Linked DNA regions of Homo sapiens. The protein of the gene in region 6 purifies or fractionates together with the protein of the main gene of each other region. This does not show direct contact. Each region holds a gene or a part of one and is shown on either strand. Other genes may lie near its edges.

What was found.
Region 1: the proteins of CRTAP (region 6) and TOM1L1 fractionate together in Homo sapiens (co-fractionation; one large-scale study listed by BioGRID). This does not show direct contact.
Region 2: the proteins of CRTAP (region 6) and HK1 fractionate together in Homo sapiens (co-fractionation; one large-scale study listed by BioGRID). This does not show direct contact.
Region 3: the proteins of CRTAP (region 6) and AKAP10 purify together in Homo sapiens (tandem affinity purification; one large-scale study listed by IntAct). This does not show direct contact.
Region 4: the proteins of CRTAP (region 6) and ARMC9 fractionate together in Homo sapiens (co-fractionation; one large-scale study listed by BioGRID). This does not show direct contact.
Region 5: the proteins of CRTAP (region 6) and MGARP fractionate together in Homo sapiens (co-fractionation; one large-scale study listed by BioGRID). This does not show direct contact.

The regions. Positions count from the first base shown.
Region 1 is NC_000017.11:54,945,852-54,949,351, reverse strand, and holds part of TOM1L1 (TOM1-like protein 1), read right to left. Parts: intron 2,092-3,500; coding exon 2,040-2,091; intron 1-2,039. UniProt on the Homo sapiens protein: Probable adapter protein involved in signaling pathways. Interacts with the SH2 and SH3 domains of various signaling proteins when it is phosphorylated. May promote FYN activation, possibly by disrupting intramolecular SH3-dependent interactions.
Region 2 is NC_000010.11:69,391,847-69,395,346, forward strand, and holds part of HK1 (hexokinase-1), read left to right. Parts: intron 1-278; coding exon 279-462; intron 463-3,103; coding exon 3,104-3,259; intron 3,260-3,500. UniProt on the Homo sapiens protein: Catalyzes the phosphorylation of various hexoses, such as D-glucose, D-glucosamine, D-fructose, D-mannose and 2-deoxy-D-glucose, to hexose 6-phosphate (D-glucose 6-phosphate, D-glucosamine 6-phosphate, D-fructose 6-phosphate, D-mannose 6-phosphate and 2-deoxy-D-glucose 6-phosphate, respectively).
Region 3 is NC_000017.11:19,967,829-19,971,328, reverse strand, and holds part of AKAP10 (A-kinase anchor protein 10, mitochondrial isoform 1 precursor), read left to right. Parts: intron 1-2,867; coding exon 2,868-2,915; intron 2,916-3,500. UniProt on the Homo sapiens protein: Differentially targeted protein that binds to type I and II regulatory subunits of protein kinase A and anchors them to the mitochondria or the plasma membrane.
Region 4 is NC_000002.12:231,359,131-231,362,630, forward strand, and holds part of ARMC9 (lisH domain-containing protein ARMC9), read left to right. Parts: intron 1-1,623; coding exon 1,624-1,753; intron 1,754-3,500. UniProt on the Homo sapiens protein: Involved in ciliogenesis. It is required for appropriate acetylation and polyglutamylation of ciliary microtubules, and regulation of cilium length. Acts as a positive regulator of hedgehog (Hh)signaling.
Region 5 is NC_000004.12:139,265,665-139,267,945, forward strand, and holds the end of MGARP (protein MGARP), read right to left. Parts: intron 1,378-2,281; coding exon 935-1,377; 3' UTR 501-934; downstream 1-500. UniProt on the Homo sapiens protein: Plays a role in the trafficking of mitochondria along microtubules. Regulates the kinesin-mediated axonal transport of mitochondria to nerve terminals along microtubules during hypoxia.
Region 6 is NC_000003.12:33,117,014-33,120,513, forward strand, and holds part of CRTAP (cartilage-associated protein isoform 1 precursor), read left to right. Parts: intron 1-3,330; coding exon 3,331-3,480; intron 3,481-3,500. UniProt on the Homo sapiens protein: Necessary for efficient 3-hydroxylation of fibrillar collagen prolyl residues.

The DNA.
Region 1 (3,500 bases), on a different chromosome or scaffold from region 6:
AGATTTACTACTTTTCTGCTGGGCATGGTGGCTCATGCCTGTTATCTCAGCAATTTGGGAGGATAGGTGGGAGGATTACTTGAGCCCAGGAGTTCAAGATCAGCCTAGGCAACAGCAAGACCCCAACTCTACAAAAAAAAAAAAAAAATAGCTGGGCATGGTGGCTCACACCTGTAGTCCCAGCTACCCCAGAGACCAAGGCAGGAGGATCACGAGCCTAGGGGTTTGAAGCTGCAGTGAGTTATGATCATATGATCATGCTATATATTCTAGCCTAGGTGACTGAATGAGACCCTGTCTCAAAAACAAGAATTTACTATATTTTTGTCTGATTTTATGCCTAATGCACCCTATTTCCCATAGAAACTGTGAAAAAAAAACCATATATTGCTTTTAAAAATGAAGCAGATTCAATGGCTCAGGCCAGATTCTCTGTTGTTTCACTCTGAATATAAAATCTCAGCCTTGAGTAGGAAAAAAAAAATTTAAATCTACAGAGAGGCACTCAGTGACACAACAAAATCAGGATTGATAAAATATTAGAATCTTAATTAGAAATATCTCTTCTCATAATTTTCCTTATTCACTCCACAAATATATCCTGGCCACCTACCAGCTGCCAGGCACTATTAATAAAGCAATAAACAAAGCAGACCAAGTTCCTGCCCTCATGACTCAGACAATCAACAAATGTGAACAGATATCCAATGGCATGTGCTCTAATATAAAAGCAGAGTAGTGGGTGGGAGAGAGACTGGGGTGGAATACTGCTCTAATAGGTCGTGGTCAGGAAATGTCTCATCACTGGGGACGTTTAAGCAGAGCCTGACTAAAGTGAGTCTTGTGGTTACTGGAGAGGACACAAGTTCACAGTCTCTGAAGTGGGGGAGGCCAGTGTGGTTGGAATAGAGTGAGCCAAGGTAGAGAGGGGCAGGAGGTGAGCCTGGAGAGGTGACGGGTGCGGTCAGATCGGCATTTCAGGCATTTACTGAGTAAAATGGAGTGAGGAAGAAAATCACAGGTGGGTTTTGAGCAAATGAGTGACATAATATGACTTCACTTTTTAAAAAAGAATGCCCCTGTTTTTGTTTTGAGAACAGATTATGAGGTGGGTGGGAGGGATGCGAAGGGAGGCAAAGGTTGAAACAGGGCTTCCCTTAGAGGCCACTGCAATGTCCATCCGATGGTGACTTGGACTAAGATGCAGAAGTGGAGGTGGTGAGAAGTGGCTGAATAATTGACATATTTTAAAAGTAAAAGGCAAAAGTAAAAGTAAAAAGGTGGATGTCAAGCGCTATTACCCAAGGTTTTTGACCTATGCAGCAAAGAGCAGAGTGGCCATTGACTGAGGTGGCAAGTCTGCAGGAAGGGCAGGTTGAGAGTGGAGACTGGGAAGAAATCAAGAGGAGACATTAAGTGGAAAGTAGATATATGAGTTCTGAGTTTAGAGAAGGGGTCTGGGCTACAAGAGATACAAACTTGTAGGTTGTCAAAAATTGAATGGTTATTTCAAGATATGAGACCAAAAGACCACAGAGGAATGAATGTAGATAGAAAAGTCTGAAGCCTGATCCCTGGGGTCTCCAACAAGAAAAGGTCAGTAGAGGAGGAAGAGCCACCAAAAGAGATGGAGAAGAAATGAACGTGAGGCAGGAGAAGAACCAAAGTGACTGGTGTCTGAAAGCCATGTGTGCAAGAAGGAGGAAGTGATCAACTTTGTCATTTGTTGCTGATAAAATGAGGGACTATGGAACTGCAGTTCTAAATTTCACAATACAGAAGTCACCAGTGACCTTGACAAGAGTTATGTCCATAGAGTGGTAGAAGAGCATGTCTGAAGTCAAAGAGAATACAAGGAAAGGAAGTGGAGATAGCAAATACAAACTCCAAAAAAATTTTGATCCTTACCATCTTGCTAACAGGGGCTGCGCATCAACACAATACTGAGCAGAACATGGGAATTAATGACCATGAGTTCTTTTCTGGCTACAATAATCTGCTGACTAGATGCACTGCTAGAAAAGAGTTTTGTTACTTACATTATCATATGCGTGGCTTGAGGTGAGGTTTTGGCTGGTCCTTTGGGCAAACCTAGGATAGTGTGATAACACAGAATGATTACCCTACAGTGAGAACACAAATGCAAAAAGTAAGATAATTTTCCTAGTCTAAAAACAAAACCTAAAAGGTACCTTCAGACTGCATAAAGTGTCATTTTGTAATAACTGTTTATAAAACAATTGGTTTTAGTGCACATCAGGTTATGATGCCATGGGTGGTGGGAGCCCTGAGACTGTGGAGTGTGCACGGAACACTAAGACCAGAGCCTTTAGTCTTTCCATCAGTGTAGCTACCACCCCATCGTTTCTTAAAGGATGAGAAGTAGTATAGAACACAGGTTAAGAAGAAAGCTGTGAGGTCTCCGGTCCAGGATAAAGCGGAGCAAACGTACTGCACTCTGTCTCTCCACTGAATGTCACTTAAAGGTGGACGGAATGCATAGAGCAAGTATTTGAGGACTCTGAATAATAGGAGCAGCCTGATTGGGAAAGAAGACCAGAATTCAAGTATCACTGAACTGTTGGTGAATTTACCGTTTTTTGCCTCTTCATATTTCCTGACCAAATGCAATGCAGTCTGAACCCCAGGCATCAATGAGAACAGACAGAGCTCTAGGAGAAGGGTTCTCATTCTCACTCAAGAAGCAGGAAAGGGAAACAATCCTAACACTCAGAATGTAGAAATCTCTTGTCCCTTTTTTGTCCTCTTCTCTCTGTTTTCTCACAACCCAAACCACAGGCAACCCCAAAGTGGCTGTAGCGACAGCCGAGGCAATGGGACTTGTAGGAAATTGAAACACAGAAGAATCTTCCTCTTCAATAGGAGCTGTGATACCCACAGCTTTTTTCCTTTCTGTCCTGCCATTTAGTCAGACATAAGCATAGTCAAGGAAATGTGTGGTATCATAGGGTAACTAAAGCTCCAGCTTTATGACTGGAGAAGCAAAAAGGGGAGTCCCAGGAAACTAGAAAGTACCAGATAAATCACGATGATGGAGGACTCAGGAAAACAACCTCATGAAGTTGTTTATGAAATACTGAGCTCACCCCCTGACCTGGGCATGCATGGATCCCATCTCAGTCACAATGTCAAAAACGGTGAGAAGTGAACAAACAACCTGCCACCTTAGACTGACCACAGGATGGAACATACATGAGACATATTTGAATGGCACTGCAAAGGCTTTGAAAATGTAGCTGACATTGGAGCCACCGCCCATAGAAGAAGGCTAAAACTGTGGAATGAATCTAGCCAGGTTGTTTACATGCTAAAATCAAAATAACATTCTTGATGTGATTTAAATTAAGACCAAGAGTCTCCTAATAAAACATTAAAAATGTCCAAGATAGAATCCAAAATTATGAGGCATATGAAGAACCATGAAAACTTCAACTTGCATGAGAAGACAATAACAGATATCGATGCCAAGAGGACACAGA
Region 2 (3,500 bases), on a different chromosome or scaffold from region 6:
CTTCTATTAAAATAAACATAACCCTGCCTGGACGGGTGAACACATTGGCTCTTGGTTGAAAGTCAGCTAAGCAGGTGCCCTCTGGGTGATGTGGCTCAGACTCTCCATTTACATTTCAAATTTTTCCATTTCAAAATTGGGAAAGAAAAACTATTACTTTGTTCATCACAAAAAACGTGCCCCCTGCCTGTGGAACCTCAGGCCCCAGACCCCAGGCCCAGTTGCAAGACCCCCAAATGCAAGGCCACCGCTCCTCATTGCCCCCTCGTGTGTTCCAGGGACCGGCAGCAATGCCTGCTACATGGAGGAGATGAAGAACGTGGAGATGGTGGAGGGGGACCAGGGGCAGATGTGCATCAACATGGAGTGGGGGGCCTTTGGGGACAACGGGTGTCTGGATGATATCAGGACACACTACGACAGACTGGTGGACGAATATTCCCTAAATGCTGGGAAACAAAGGTAACCCCGCCTGGTGGAGAGGACACTCACAGTCAGGGTGGGGGCAGCACTTGGCTGCATTCTGCCACTTGCAGTGGAAGAAGTTTCTAGGAGGAGAGGTCTGAACAGAGGTTTCAAGACTGGACCCCCTGGCTCACTCCTGACCTTTGTCTTTTGGACAGCAGAGAACCAGGGAGGACAGACCCCCAACATGGTACAAGATGGCCCAGGGTTGATGCCTGTCTAGGGGCTGCCTGTGACTGTTTTTTAGCCTGGAGGATTCTGGCCTTCCGGTCCCCTTGCTGTGTTCCTTTCCCATCAGAATAACAAGGGGGTGGGGTGAGGGTGGCTGGGCGGCAGGTTGGTGTGAAGCAGAGGCCCTGTCGCAATCGTCCTTTCCTCCGTGAGCCTCCTGCACCACCTAGTGGCCTTGTGGAGCTTTGCAGCTCAGGTCTCAGGTACCATGTCTGAAATGGCAGTGTCTGCCCTTTGTCTCAAGCCCCCAGGAATCAGGCCATCCTCTGCCACGGCCAGGATGAGTTGGTCCAAGTTGTCTCCCTAGGAGCAGAAAGAAGGGCTGGAGCAGCACCCAGCATGAGTCACTCCCTAGCCCCCTCAAGGTTTTTGCCTTTTCTAAATACCACCCATGCTGTTATTTACTTAGTGCTTTTCTTCGAATCAGCTTACAGTTTTTTGTTTTTCTTTTTGTTTGAGGTGGAGTTTTGCTCTTGTTGCCCAGGCTGGAGTGCAATGGCGTGATCTCGGCTCACCACAACCTCCACCTCCCGGGTTCAAGCAGTTCTCCTGCCTCAGCCTCCCCAGTAGCTGGGATTACAGGCATACACAACCATGCCCAGCTAATTTTGTATTTTTAGTAGAGACGGGGTTTCTCCATGTTGGTCAGGCTGGTCTTGAACTCCCGACCTCAGGTGATCCGCCTGTCTAGGTCTCCTAAAGTGCTGGGATTACAGGTGTGAGCCACCGCAACCAGCCCTTATAGTCTTTTTCTTTTCTTTTCTTTTCTTTTTTTTTTGAGACAGAGTCTCACCCTGTTGTCCAGGCTAGAGTGCAGTGGTGCGAGCTCAGCTCACTGCCACCTCCTGGGTTCAAGTGATTCTCCTGCCTCAGCCTCCCAGGTAGCTGGGATTACAGGTGCACGGCACCACGCCCAGCTAGTTTTTGTATTTTTGGTAGAGACCAGGTTTCACCATGTTGGTCAGACTGGTCTCGAACTCCTGACCTCAGGTGATTGGCCCGCCTCAGCCTCCCAAAGTGCTGGGATTATAGGCGTGAGCCACCGTGCCCAGTGGCCTTTAAGGTCTTTACTGACATTTAATGAAGGAGGAAAAAGAGGAAGAACCAATAGTACCATAAAGAGATGGTAACTAAAAAATGAGTATAGTGAAGAACCGTGCTATTCAAGTCTAGCTGATGCTGTCGCCTACCAAATGACCTGAACTAAGACCCCCTTTGGGCTGAGTGCAGTCTATCATCAAAGTAATCCCAGCACTTTGGGAGGCCAAGGTGGGAGGATTGCTTGAGCTCAGGAGGTTGAGACCACCCTGGGCAACATAGGGTTGAGACCCTGTCTCTACTAAAAATTAATAACAATAATAACAACAATAATAGTAAGACCCCCTTGGTTAAAAAGCGGGGGGATCAGCAAGTGTTGGAAGGGGTTAAGGACATGTCAGCACCAAACTGGGGTGGTCTTTGTGGTGGAATGAGAAGGACTGGGTGGGACTTCGTAGTGGTGGCCCACCCCTCTGTGATTCCATTCTGTTTCATGTTCTTCCATGGACCACATGAAATAGGAGGAATCCTGGAGTTCCAAATTCCAGGGGACTCTTCTCAGCTTTGGGACACTGGGCTTGGGCATGTGCCATGGAAATGAATCAATCCTTTGTTATTTCTTGAGATCCTTGAGCATGGAGAGGGCAGGAAATTTGAAGTCCCAAGAACAGGTTGACCTCCAGTGTGTTGTGGTCACTGAATTCTCCCTCCTGTGTGGCCTCATCACTCTGCTGTGGGCTTGACCAGTACTCTGGGTATTTGCAAAACCTTTAGAAAAATCTAGAAACTTTCCTTTTTTTTGTCTTCTTGTTCCTTTAAGACTTAGCCCAGTCATTTGCTTATTCTGCAGATAGTTTTTGGGCACTTTCCTGAGGGCCCAGTGCTATGCTATGCTGTGCTGTGCCCTGGGGACTCAGAGCTGAAAAAGACACACATGCCCTGTCCTCTTGGGGCTGTCACTACAGCAGTGGTGGTGGGAGGCAGTGAGCTCAGGTGTGTTGTGAAGGAGGAGAATGGTGAGGTGTGTGGGAACCTGAAACAGGCAGGTAGAACCCAGGATCAGGAGGAGGACAGGCTCTCGGGGAAGTGACCTTGGGGCTGAGAGCTATCAGGCAGCTGAGGAGGGAGACCAGTCTAGCAGGTAGACATGAATGCTGGTGGTTTTGTTTCTGATGTGAGAGAGTGGAGGACTCCCTGGTCCTTCCTGGTCCTCCCACTCTGCCTCTGCGGCAGAGCACAGGGCTGGGCACATGGCTGTTGATGATGCGCTTGAGGGGCAGTAGGAGACGCGGAGTGACCGTGAGACCGAGGGGTGACAGTTCTCCTGGCCACTTCCCATAGACACCCCAGGCCCCTCCTCCTGTCTCAGGTATGAGAAGATGATCAGTGGTATGTACCTGGGTGAAATCGTCCGCAACATCTTAATCGACTTCACCAAGAAGGGATTCCTCTTCCGAGGGCAGATCTCTGAGACGCTGAAGACCCGGGGCATCTTTGAGACCAAGTTTCTCTCTCAGATCGAGAGGTGAGTGGGCAGTGTCTTCCCTGCCAGCGCCCACCCTTCAGAGGTCGCCTGGCTGGTGGATTGTGATGGGGGTGGTAGGGACCCTAGGGGACATTTTGGCCATTTTTGAGGATTTTTTTTCCTCTGGAATAGCAGACCCTGGGCATTTGCATAGTGAAATCTTATAATTTTATTATAAATTACTTTTCTTGGCCTGGTGTGGTGGCTCATGCCTGTAATCCCAGCACTTTGGGAGGCCGAG
Region 3 (3,500 bases), on a different chromosome or scaffold from region 6:
CCATGTTGGCCAGGCTGGTCTTGAACTCCTGACCTCAAGTGTTCCACCCAACTTGGCCTCCCAAAGTGCTAGGATTACAGGCGTGAGCCACCGTGCTCAGCCATTTGCGTGATTTTTAAAGATGTGCAGAATAATGCCATTAAAAAAAATACACATACATGTATATATATACACGTTTGGCTGGGTGTGGTGGCTCACACCTGTAATCCCAGCACTTTGGGAGGCTGAGGCAGGAGGATCACTTGAGCCCAGGTGTACAAGACTAGCCTGGGCGAGATAGCAAGACCCCATCTCAACAACAGAAAGGATAATTAGGTATGGTGGCATGAGAGGATCACTTGAGCCCAGGAGTTCGAGTGTTATCAGGCCACTGCACTCTAGCCTGGACAACAAAGCAAGACCGTGTCTCAAAAAAATAAAAATAAAAAGTATTTGTATGTGGTCATAGTCAAAAAACGTACATGGAAGGAAAATGTCTTTATTTATTTATTTATTTTTTTTTTTTTAAGACAGAGTCTTGCTCTGTCACCCAGGCTGGGGTACAGTGGTGTAATCTCAGCTCACCGCAATCTCGGCCTCCCGGGTTCAAGCGATTCTTCTGCCTCAGCCTTCTAAGTAGCTGGGACTACAGGTACCCGCCACCACACCCTGCTAATTCTTGTGTTTTCAGTAGAGACAGGGTTTCACCATGTTGGCAAGGCTGGTCTCGAACTCCTGACCTTAAGTGAGCCACCCGCCTTGGCCTCCCAAAGTCCTGGGATTACAGGTGTGAGCCACTGCGCTTGGCCAGGAAATATCTAATTTAGTAAGTATTTATATCTGGGAAAGGAAGGGTCAGGTGGTGATTCATAGGAACTCTAAAGTCTATGTATAATACTTAGGGGGACAGAAGGAAATAAAGCAAAATGCTGATATTTGATTGTTGAGTTGTGTATATGTTAGAAGTATAACATAGGAGATCTGATTGATAGTAGGAGAATGTTTTTAGGTGGTAAAAGTGGAACCGTGGTGGTTTGTTTTGGCAGTAGAATCAGTTGGTCATAGTTTGTATGTGGAAGGTAATAAACAGACCATGTTAAGGATGACTTCCGGAATTTTGGTCTGAGTAGTGGGTGGATGACAGTGTCATTCATGAGGGAAGATGAAGACTGAGGTAGGAACAGGTTTGGGAGAAGATGACATGTTCCCTTTTAGACAAGTGGAATTATGGAAGATGGCAGGTAGGTGGTTAGCTATATGAATTTGAGATAAAAGATTTAGGATGGAGATATAAATTTAGGAGTAACAGCGTATCTATGGTATTGTAAGCCTTAAGAATGGGTAGGATCAGCCAGGAAATACAGATGTATATGCAGAAGAGAGGAGTCAAGGAAGCCAAGACAAGTTAATGTTTAAAGTGAGTGATGTAGTCCATGGGCAGATGCTGCTGAGAGGGCTGCAAACACCAGTGACCCTACAACATTTTTAAATGTCGTCTTCCTGACAGCAGTGATCAGTACCTGCAACGATCTTATTTATTTTTTTCATGTTAGTCTCCACACACTTGAATGTAGACTTTTTGAAGGCAAAATCATTGCCTTTTCTGAGCTGGGAGCATGTCTGGCACATACCAAGCACTCAACAGTTGATGTATTGACTTCATCCAGATACTCTGAGGGCGAGTTATTTCCTGCTACTAGCCTTTCACCTTTCAATGTTTAAGAGCACAAATACAGAGATGGGCACGTTTTGGCATTTCTTATTTTGATAACCTTTTCCTGGTAAGATTTTTTAATGTTGAAAAAAAAAAACAAGAAAAGAGGGTTAAAAATAGTCTTATGTCAGATCCTGTGATAGAATTCACACTTGGCTTAAGCTGCTGGGCACCTTCCTATCTTGGATGTCATATTAGCTTATCTACAGCAGAATTTTTACTGTTTTATGTAGTAAGGAAGCAATTATATGATTATTTTACAGACAAATTATTCTTTATCTTTTATTTTTTTAGACGGAGTCTCTCTTTGTCTCCCAGGCTGGAGTACAGTGTCGCGATCTCGGCTCACTGCAACCTCCGCCTCCTGGGTTCAAGCAATTCTCTGCCTCAGCCTCCCAAGTAGCTGGGCTTACAGGTGTCCGCCACCACACCCAGCTCATTGTTTTGTATTTTTAGTAGAGATGGGGTTTCACCATGTTGGCCAGGCTGGTCTTGAGCTACTGACCTCAGGTGATCCACCCGCCTTGGCATCCCAAAGTGCTGGAATTACAGGCGTGAGCCACCGTGCCTGGCCCAGACAAATTATTATACTCTGAGTGTTAGAGGCTTAGGATGTTTTCACTTGATGCTATGGGAGGAATAAGTAATAAGATATGATACACAACCAAAGACCTTTCTTCACTATGCTTCTAGTAGCTAGTACTATGGATGACACATGGTAATAATATTGGTTAGCATTTGTCCTCAATTTACTGTGCTAGTTACTCTTCTAAGCCCCTTACAGGTATATATTTTTTTTCATCAATAATCCTCTAAGGTAGTTTTTATTATTGACCTAATTTTATAAATCAAGAAAATTAAGACCCAGAGAAGTAAGTAACTTGTCCAAGATCACATGGCTTATAAGTGGTAGAGCCAGAATTTGACCCCAGATGTTGTGACTACATTGTCTCTCCATAAGCAGGTTCAACTCTTTTGACTGGATGCTGTTCCAAGGTCACTTCCTTAGAGAAGCCTTTGCTGACAACTACCCTCCTGTGCCCTCCTCCAAGGCTGTCCATTGTTCTAGAACTTTGAATACTCATCTTAGAATAAAGCTGGTCTAATTTTTACAGTGTTATAGAATGGATCTCTGACTGCAAAAGTTGGTCATAATTATCTTTTTATGTTCTAGTGAAAGGCAAAGAACAAGAGAAGACCTCAGATGTGAAGTCCATTAAAGGTAAGTTCTGCCCTTGGCAGTCCACTGCATTAAAAAGTGATGTGCTTTGCATTTGTGAGTTCTTTAATCCTGTTATACTCTCTCTTTTGGCATTAATCATTTCTGCCTTATTTTATAATTACTTATGATTTTGATTTATTTCCCTCTTTAACCTGTATAATGCTTTAACATCTAGCATATAATAAGTAGGCTTTTTTTTTTTTTTTTTTTTTGGAGACGGAGTCTTGCTCTGTTACCCAGGCTGGAGTGCAGTGGCGCGATCTTGGCTCACTGCAAGCTCTGTCTCCCGGGTTCACACCATTCTCCTGCCTCAGCCTCCCCAGCAGCTGGGACTACAGGTGCACGGCGCCACGCCTGGCTAATTTTTTGTATTTTTTAGTAGAGACAGAGTTTCACCATGTTAGCCAGTATGGTCTCGATCTCCTGACCTTGTGATCCGCCCGCCTCGGCCTCCCAAAGTGCTGGGATTACAAGCGTGAGCCACCGCACCCGGCCGTAAGTAGGCTTTTTTTACCTTAATTTTATTTTTTTGAGATGGAGTCTTGCTCTTATCCCCAGGCTGGAGTGCAGTGGTGCCATCTCGGC
Region 4 (3,500 bases), on a different chromosome or scaffold from region 6:
GCTGGAGTGCAGTGGTGCGATCTTGGCTCACTGCAAACTCCGCCTCCCGGGGTTCAAGTGATTCCCCTGCCTCAGCCTCCTGAGTAGCTGGGATTACAGGCATGTGTTACCATACCCGGCTAATTTTTGTATTTTTAGTAGAGACAGGGTTTTACCATGTTGGCCAGGCTGGTCTCAAACTCCTGGCCTCAAGTGATCTGCCTGCCCCAGCCTCCCAAAGTGGTGGGATTACAGGCGTGAGCCACCGTGCTCAGCTGGTCTCTTGTTCTTGGTGGGACCTCTGAAAGTCTTCAGTGTGGCCTGTGCTGGAGGAAGTAGGAGAGGAGAAGGGGACAGTTGAACCAAGACCACCTCATGGTCTTGGGACACTCCAGCTCAGTTCCTCCTTTTTTATGACCACCCCGTCCCCTACGCTCACACCCCCTGGGAAGCTCCTGGTCCTGGTCCTAGAGGACTTGCCTGGCGTGGGCACAGCTTTGTGACTCCACACGTTGTAATGGGGTTCCCCTGCGTGTAGCCCAGCAATTCGGTGTGACTTCACTCAAGTATTCTCTTGTACACCTACGCTTTTTCTCCTGGCCTTATTCTAAGCACACTGAGCATGTGCCTCCTGTCCTGAAGCTCTATTTCTAGACCCAGATCCAGGTGGAGACCGCCCAGTGCCACCCGCTGGGTTCTGGTATCAGAAATAGATTCTCGTTTGGGTCAAAAGAGAATTATCTGGAAGTCAAAGCCCCTTGCTACAGGGAAACCTGCAGGGAAGATCCCTTTATATTTAAGATTAAACAGATCACATTGCAAAGCCACAGAGGAGCTGCTAAAATGAAAGAGCTGAGAGGAGCTTGGCCTAAGGGAGTCACGGATGCAGCCTCTGTCACAGTGTCGCTGCAGCAGTGACATGGACCCCTTCAGCTGTAGGAGAAGAGGAGAGGCGGGGTGGGGGAAGGGGTGCGTGGCATCTGAGATGCAGGAACATCTGTTCCCAGGCCCTTGGGGAGCCCTCCGTATGCTATGATGCTATCTGGGATTCTCCGTCTGCTTCCCCGTGAAGGGCTCCTGCGTGTCCCGGGTGGCCTGGTTCTGGGTGGGCATCAGCTACAGCACAAGTCACTGGGAGTTAGGGCACTTCCTGGCCACCCTGGGTGTACCGAGTGGTTCAGCATTAAGGAGCCTTGGGCTGCTCGGTGAGGAGCACCCTACCTCTCAGGTTGTTGGTTTTAGCAAATAAAACTACACACCACCCAGTTACATTTGAGTTTCAGATAAGCAAATGGGCCTCCACATTCTGTCTGGGGGCGCCTAGCCATGGCCCAGGGAGACAATTTGTTGTTCTGAGGGCTTTCCAGAGGCTGAGGGGTGCCAGGAAGGCTGAGCGGCCAGGGTGATCTGAACCTCCCTGGGCTGTGCCTGTCACCACCAGCAGTGTGCCTGCCATCCCCCGCTACCTGGCAAGTTCCCGGGCTGCACGAGTAAACAAGTATCCCAAGCCACAGGCGCCAGGGAGCCCGCAGGGCCTGGCCTGGGGTGCGTGCTTTTCTTGGCTTTCCAACCCAGCCCACGAGAGGGCATCCTTAGAGGGGCTCCAGAGCAGATGTGGACTGAACTTTCTCTCCTCCTCCCCAGCAGCCATCATCGCCAAGCCAGGAGAGTGGCTCCCAAGAGGACGCCAGGAAGAGCCTCGCCCAGCCCCCACGGGGACCCCCCGCCAGCCAAGGGAGGCGCCCCAGGACCCAGGCAATGGAGTGACCACCAGGTAAGGGGGATATCACAAGGCCTCGAACCTGACTCTCGGAGCTCTGGGAGTGGGCGCCCCACGCCGGATGCAGAGCACCCAGGAGACCTGGAAGGCTCCTCTGAGGCCCAGCCTCTGACAGGGGAGGCTAAGGAGCAGTGTCAAGATTCCCAGCGGAGTGCAGCCGCCACTCCTGACCACCTCGGAGGGCTGTGCTGCCTGAGAGCCATCAGTCAGACGGGAAGGACACAGCACTCAGAAGCATGCCCATGGGACTAGTTTTCAAAACTGCCAGGCGGACTTGTCCAGGGCTGGGTGATGGGGTGACTTAGGGACAGTGTCCTGTCAGCTTTTTGCATTTGGAGGAAGTGGGCTGTAGGGCAGAAAGATGGAGAAGGAGGTGAGTAAATGGTTTGGCTCAGAGGTCACTTCCTGAAACAGAAACTGGGCCTCCAGGCTGGGGCGTGGTGGCGCACGCCTGTAATCCCAACACTTTGGGAGGCTGAGGCAGGAGGATTGCTTGAGCCCAGGAGTTTGAAACTAGCCTGGGCAACATAGTGAGACCCTGTCTCAAAAAAAAAAAAAAAATCAAAAAACTAAAAAAAAAAAAAGAAAAGAAAAAACTGGACCCCCGAGCAGAAGAAAAAAAAAAATAGTGTCCTCTCTTCCACTGTGCCACGTGAGCACAGACTGGCCCTGTGGGTTATTAGGGGTTCTTTAGGGTCTAGAAAGGACCTTTCCAATCTCGCCAGCTCTTTCTTTTGGATCTGGAGAAACCTGCTCAGGGAGAGGGGCCTGGCCTGGGTCTCAGACCCTGCCTGTCCCTGACCACCAGGCATGCCAGCTGCCCCTCACCACTTCCTCCTGGCCATGAAGGAAGCCAACCTCCTGCGGTAAAATATGGGGCTGGAGCAGGCTCAGCTTAGTTCTGGGGGCCCCCGGAGAGGACAGGCAGGAAGACTGAGCAGAACCTGCACCCACTGGTGGAGAAAATCGGAGAGAGAAAGAGGCAGGAAGAGAAATCAATGGGGAGTGGCAGACAGGAGGAGGATGTAAGAGAAAGGGGGCGCAGACAAGTGTGCTGAGCTTCCTTGGGTGGGATGGGCTAGAAGCCGAAATCGGAACTGTGGGAAGGATGGGAAGGACTTCAAGACCTGGGCTAGGGAAGGGTGGGGGCAGTCCCAGCTATCTTTAAGAAGCACGGGGTCAAAGGTGGCTGCATTACTGGGGGAGGGGCCAAGCCTCTGGACTCCTCCAGTTCCACTGCCAACCTGCCTGGGGACCCAGGGACCTACCTCCCCTACCTGGGCCTCCTCCCCTCTTTCTGTGGCTGAAGAGGAGCTTGTCAGCTAGACCAGGGGTTCTCAGGCTCTCAGCATCCCCCTGAAATGGGGACTCAAAATGAGAGACCTCTGAGGAGTGGGCTAGAGCTATCTCATGCCCCCAGTCCAGACTGGATCCTCCCCTGCGGTTCAGCCAGGCCAAACCTACGCTTCCGGTATAGGCCACTTCTTTTTACTTCCTGCAAATGCTGAGTTCATTTCTGAGGCTCTCCACTGGGGACAGCCCTCTCTCCCCAGAAATAACTGTTTTCACAGTAGGTAGGCAGCCGACCCTGAGGGACCTCATTACATCAAGCAGCGTTGCCTAGCTGGCCCCCCAAGATTCTACTGAGCACAAAGACCCCTCAGGGTCCAACCCAGAGGTGCCCTCCCCTTGGTGTCAGTCACTGAAGCCAGCTCTTATTTTAAGCCTGGGAGTTCAGTGT
Region 5 (2,281 bases), on a different chromosome or scaffold from region 6:
AGGCCTCTTTTGGCCATCCTATCTAAAATTACAACTTCCACCTCAGACTAACACTTACAATCCTTTTATTTTCGTTACTTTTATCCTTAGCACTTATCAGTACCTAACACACTATATCATTTTCTCATTTGTCTTCTTACCTGGTTCCACTCTAGAATATAAACCGGGAGCACTTAAAACAATACCTATTATGTTGTAAGTGCTCAGCTAATATTTGTTGAACACGTGAATGAATGAAAGATTCCTGGCACAAAGTGCTAATCTTCAATAAATATTGTTTGAACTGAACTGAAACAGAAAATATCTACATAGTCCCCTGTGTAAGTACTATAGATGGGAGAGGGCATACATATTGTTACATGCAGGGTTCTCCATAGATTATATGCTCTTTCTTCAATAATATTACGAAAGCCTACATTTCTCATGTGATGTTATGTACCTGTATGTTAATATGTATTATTTGTACATGCAAATATTAGTGAAAAAAGTAGAAGCACCAAAGCTTTTCTAATTTTATTTGACTCAAACTATATTTTAGACCTACATATCATACAATAAAGTAAGCTGAAAGCATAGTGAAATTAAAGTAAATACAGGTTGTATGGATAGCTCAATTTCTTTAATATAAAATGTAAATTCAGAGATGACTGGGATAAAAGAAAAGTGTCTAGAAAAAAAAACCAAAGATGAAACTATTTAAGCTCTTTACTGCAATGTCATATTCTGATCTCAGACAGTAGAAGAGTAGTAAGAAATGTACAATCTCAAGTCTCTCAGTCCTAAAATCTATCAGTGGATGCCAAAAATCTTCAAGACCCATTAACGTTTTCTAGAAAATAAGTCTTTTTTTTTTTAAACTAAGTGTACTAAAAACACAAAAGCACTTATCAGACACCCTATGGCATTTGTTGCTGAAATGTCTACCGGCTGGAGATTAGCCTTGAGCCGAAGCAGCCTCAGAGCCAACACTGGCTTCCTCCTGTAAATCATCTCCAGCAGAGGACTCTGACTCAGCTGGAGAATTTTCTTCTTCTAGTTCAGCATATTCATCAGAGGTTTCGTTCTTTGTTGTATCTTTATCATTATCGATGGTGACAGCTTCATCCAGGGCAGCATTTGTAACCTCTGGGGTTGTTTCAGGGTTTACTTCCGTGGTTTCCCTCGCCGCTGCATCTGTGACCTCTGGCCCGGTTTCAGCACTGACTGCTGTGGTCTCCGGAGCAGCCTCCACGTGACCTGGACAGGCAGATGCCTCTTTTATGACCACAACTGTAGCACTGGGACTTTCTTCAGCATCTACCACCTCAGCTTCCACTATAAGTTCTTCTGGGGCTTCTGAACTTGCTTTCTCAGTTTCCGCAACATTCTCCTTTTCACCTTTAAGAATTAGTCATTAAGCAAGGTATTAATTTAAAGATCGTGGGAAGGCAATGAAACACTGCGGTCGTTTAAACACCTAAGACAGAACTACATGCACTGATGTGTAACAGTCTTCAAGGTAGACTCTCAAGTGAAACAGCAAAAAAAGAACAATGTATACAGTCTGCTACTATTGTTAGGGCAAAATGAGGTTGGAGCAGGAGGGGGGTAAGTTGTATGCCTAGATAATTGTATTTGCAAAAACTCTCCAGGAGGATTCCAAGAAACTGGTTCTATTGGTTGCCTCTTGGAGGGAAAATGGGGGATCTGCTTTTCTGTAAACTCTTTGAACTTAAAAAAAAACACACTTGAATATATTACTTAGGCAAATATGAAGAATACAAAAATAAGTAGCTATCCTATTCACCTTTCATATGAGACAGCATGGAAGAGTAGCCAAGTTCCTAGCTGGTGACTCAGAAATCACTAATCCTCTCTCAATCTCATTTTTGTCATCTGTAAAATAGGGTATTGATAATATCTACTGCACAGGGTTATTGTAAAGATTAATTAAAATACTGTATATGAAAAGGGGATTAAAATAAAAAGTTCTATGCAAATGCTTATTAGTATTATAAACAACCGCATGATTATATTCAATAATATGTATTGATGATATTCTGTTTCTTATTATTGTCATGACAGGTTAAAACTGATTCATAAGCCCCTAATATCTCTATCCCTAAATAGTGATCATAGTAATTGATAATAATAGCTTGGAAAAAAGTATGGTTTAAAGCAAGAAGTGGCTAGGCATAGTGGCATATGCCTGTAATCCCAGCACTTTGGGAGGCTGAGGCAGGAGGGATCACATGAGGCCAGGAGATCAAGACCAGCCTGGGCAACATAGTGAGACCCTGTC
Region 6 (3,500 bases):
GGAGGATCACTTGAGCCCAGAAAGTCAAGGCTGCAGTGAGCTGTGATCTTACCACTGCACTCCAGCCTGGGTGACAGAACAAGACTCTTGTGTCAAAAAAAAGTGATGTTTACGTGTTTAAACTCTGTTTATGGATAGAGAGGAAAAGATGGGTGGCAGGCACATACATTCTACCTGGCACCTGAAGGCTGGAGGTCGATATGAAGGTAGATAGTGCGCTGTGGCAGGACATGGATAAATGTTACTCTGCTGTTCTGAGTTGCAGTTCTCTGTTTCAGTGATTAAGGAGAAATGCCTCAATTGATCACTGGAATAGCAATGGTGGGTTCCGACTGCCAGAGGGAGGCGAGGAGGTTTGGATGTGTGCTCTTGTAGAAAAGGGCTGTGCTACTGGTGTGCAGCCTCAGGTGCATCATAGGTTTCTCGTCACCAGCCTACTCTAGGTCCATGTCATTAGCTTTCTTTGGGTTCTCTCCACAATTACCATCTTCCACGAAAAACTCATTTTTCTCATAGGCCAAGCAAAAAGTAGGCCGGAGCACTTCATCAAATCCTTAATGACTGTTGAGCTCTAACCTGGACAGAGAACACTGACTCACAGGCACTGTTAACCCCAGGCCTTGCCTGGCTGTGGCCTCTAACTCCCCGGAACCACAGGGCCTGCCTCTGTGTCATGGCTGATTTAGGGTGGCTCATGCTGGTGGCTGTATCTCAGGAACCCAAGGCAAGGTGGTTCCCTCCATCCCTACCACCTTCTCCAAAATCTGCCTGGGGTCTGTCAGAGGTTTGGTAGCCAAGATGTGTCTCCATGTTCCAGCTGCAGAGCCTGAGTTGAAGTAAATAAAATCACTCTTTTCTCTTCAGGAAGAGATTCCGTTTTGTAAAACATCCTAAGTTAGAAGCCTTAAAAATCCTACTCTGTGCCCCTCTTTCTATTCCTTTCTTTCTTTCTTTCTTTCTTTTTTGAGACGGAATCTCACTGTGTCACCCAGACTGGAGTGCAGTGGTGCGATCCTGGCTCACTGCAACCTCCGCCCCCCGGGTTCAAGTGATTCTCCTGCCTCAGCCTCCCGAGTAGCTGGGATTACAAGCACCTGCCACTGTGCCTGGCTAATTTTTGTCTTTTTAGTAGAGATGGGGTTTCATCATCTTGGCCAGGCTGATCTTGGACTCCTGACCTCGTGATCCACCCACCTCGACCTCCTAAAGTGCTGGGATTACAGGCATGAGCCACTGCTCCCGGCCTCTGTGCCCCTCTTTCTAAGTGCTGTTCTGAGAATTAGTGACTCTAATTTCACTGGCAAATGCTTTAAAAGGCAGCATTCATACCCTCTCCCTTCCTTCCAGCTGAAGACTAGCCTTTTTCTGGCCAGGAGTGTGAAGCTTTCTGTAGGGCTGTTTTAAAGGCAGCCCTGCCACAAGCCACTAATTGGCATTCCCAAAACATCAGCATTGACATCTGGGAGTCTGCCCTCATCACCACCCACCACTTCTCTGATGTGGCCACTGCCATTGTCTCAAAATGACTTGGTTCCAATTCTGGGGCAATTCGGTACCGATATATGCCATCCTATGACTCTTAGAAGTCTAGGGTATACCAAATATTCCTTTATTTTCTCTGTCTAAACCGAATTCCCTAATTCCCGCCTTGGAGCGTCCCTCTGGATTGGCTGAGTCTCTGTGCACATGCACAGGTGCCTGCCCTTCTCCCTACTAGGTTGTGCCAAGAGTCCATCAGCATGGGGGCCCTCTGGTTGGTGGTCATGAGTCCTCACAGGGAGGCCTCTGCATCCTTATTTGCCTGCCCTCCTGAGGTCCTGCCATAACATACCTGTTCTTCCTGAGGACTTCTGCCGTCTTGAACACTGCCGATAAGTGCCAGCCCTGAAGCTCCGGGGCCCGCAGCCCTGCTGCTCTCACAGATCCCAAGGGAAACTTTTTTCCTAGCCTGGGAGATTCCCTTTCTCCCTCTTCTTCTCCCAGGCCAGTCAGCTTCTTCCTGCAGCTCCTCTCCAATTTCTTTCTCCCCTCAAACCTGTCAGGCTCTTTTGTGAGTGCAGGCTTTTTTCAAGTGAATAATTTGCTGGTTCTGACCAGATATCTACCTCCCCTGAGACAGTGAAACTCAGAATCATTGGCCCCTTCAATGGAGAGAAGACAGAGGGGAAAAGAGAGGAAAATGTGAATTAATTTTATTATATTTTATGGTCATAATGTCATTATGTTCAAATCACAGATACTTATTGTGTCCTGCCTTGTCCTGAGGACTGTGTGAGGCACCAGGAATCCAGATAATGAATGACACACAGCTGGGTCCCCCGAGGATCATAGTCTGATGGGGGAGATAGACGTACCACTGAGATTGTAGGGTGGCGTAAAATGCGGGAAGACAGAACCCAGAACTAGCCCAACAGAGAGGCTCTTAATTGAGGCCACTAGGAGACAGGGAGAACTTAACAGAATATATGGTCCATGCAGGTGGGGATTTTTTTTTCCTGTTTTGCTTATTGTTATAGACCCACAACCTAGAAATGGTGCTCTTGTAATATGACGTTTATTGCTGCATGAATGGATGAATAAGTGAGGAGGTGGTGGAGTCATTGAGAATGTTAGCAGAAGGTCTGTGGGGGATTTGGGAAAACAATATATTTGTCAAGGTGCCAGTGGAAAAGATATGGTGCAGTCATATTGGGTAATTGGAGGAAAGTTTAAGAAGGTGGTTATTTACAAAGGTGTGTGCAGTGCATGGGGAATCCACAAGAGATAGTGTTCTGCCACAGGGGTGATAGCAGTGGGATATGACCAACCCTAGGCCAAAAGGGGCAGGGGAGAGAGCAGTGATTGAAACCGGGAAGGAGGGAGACTCTATGGAGAGGGTCACCTTGAGAAGAACTGTGATCTTCAATTAAGGGACATAGCAGCCCAAGAGGACTGTGCAGGGAGGGAACCAGGAAATGAAATAACATGACCTTACTCTCTTCCCTTCCTCAGTCATCTACTGGGGCTCCTCATGGGTGAACCTCTTTGGAAGCCAGAGAGCGAGGGAGTCTGTTGTTATAGTCCACACAGGCCAGCCTCCTGGGGCATGTAGCCAGTGCAGAGTAGATTGGGAAAGGCAGACCGAGGCCATCCAGACAGTCGCTTTCAGGAAATCAGCACTTGTCTCACAGTGCCTGGACTTGGTCTTGAGGGGCCCTGGAAGTCATGGAACCTTTAGCTGGAAAAGTTATAGCAACACAAAGTTTCTGAAGGACTAAGCAGATATTCTTGTTTTACAAAAATTACCACTTAGCATCCATGGAGTAGCTTTTATGTTCTTTGTCCTTTTAGGCAAATAATCTCCCCAAAGCCATCGCCGCTGCTCACACCTTTCTACTGAAGCATCCTGATGACGAAATGATGAAGAGGAACATGGCATATTATAAGAGCCTGCCTGGTGCCGAGGACTACATTAAAGACCTGGAAACCAAGTCATATGAAGTATGTTTGGATTTTTATGT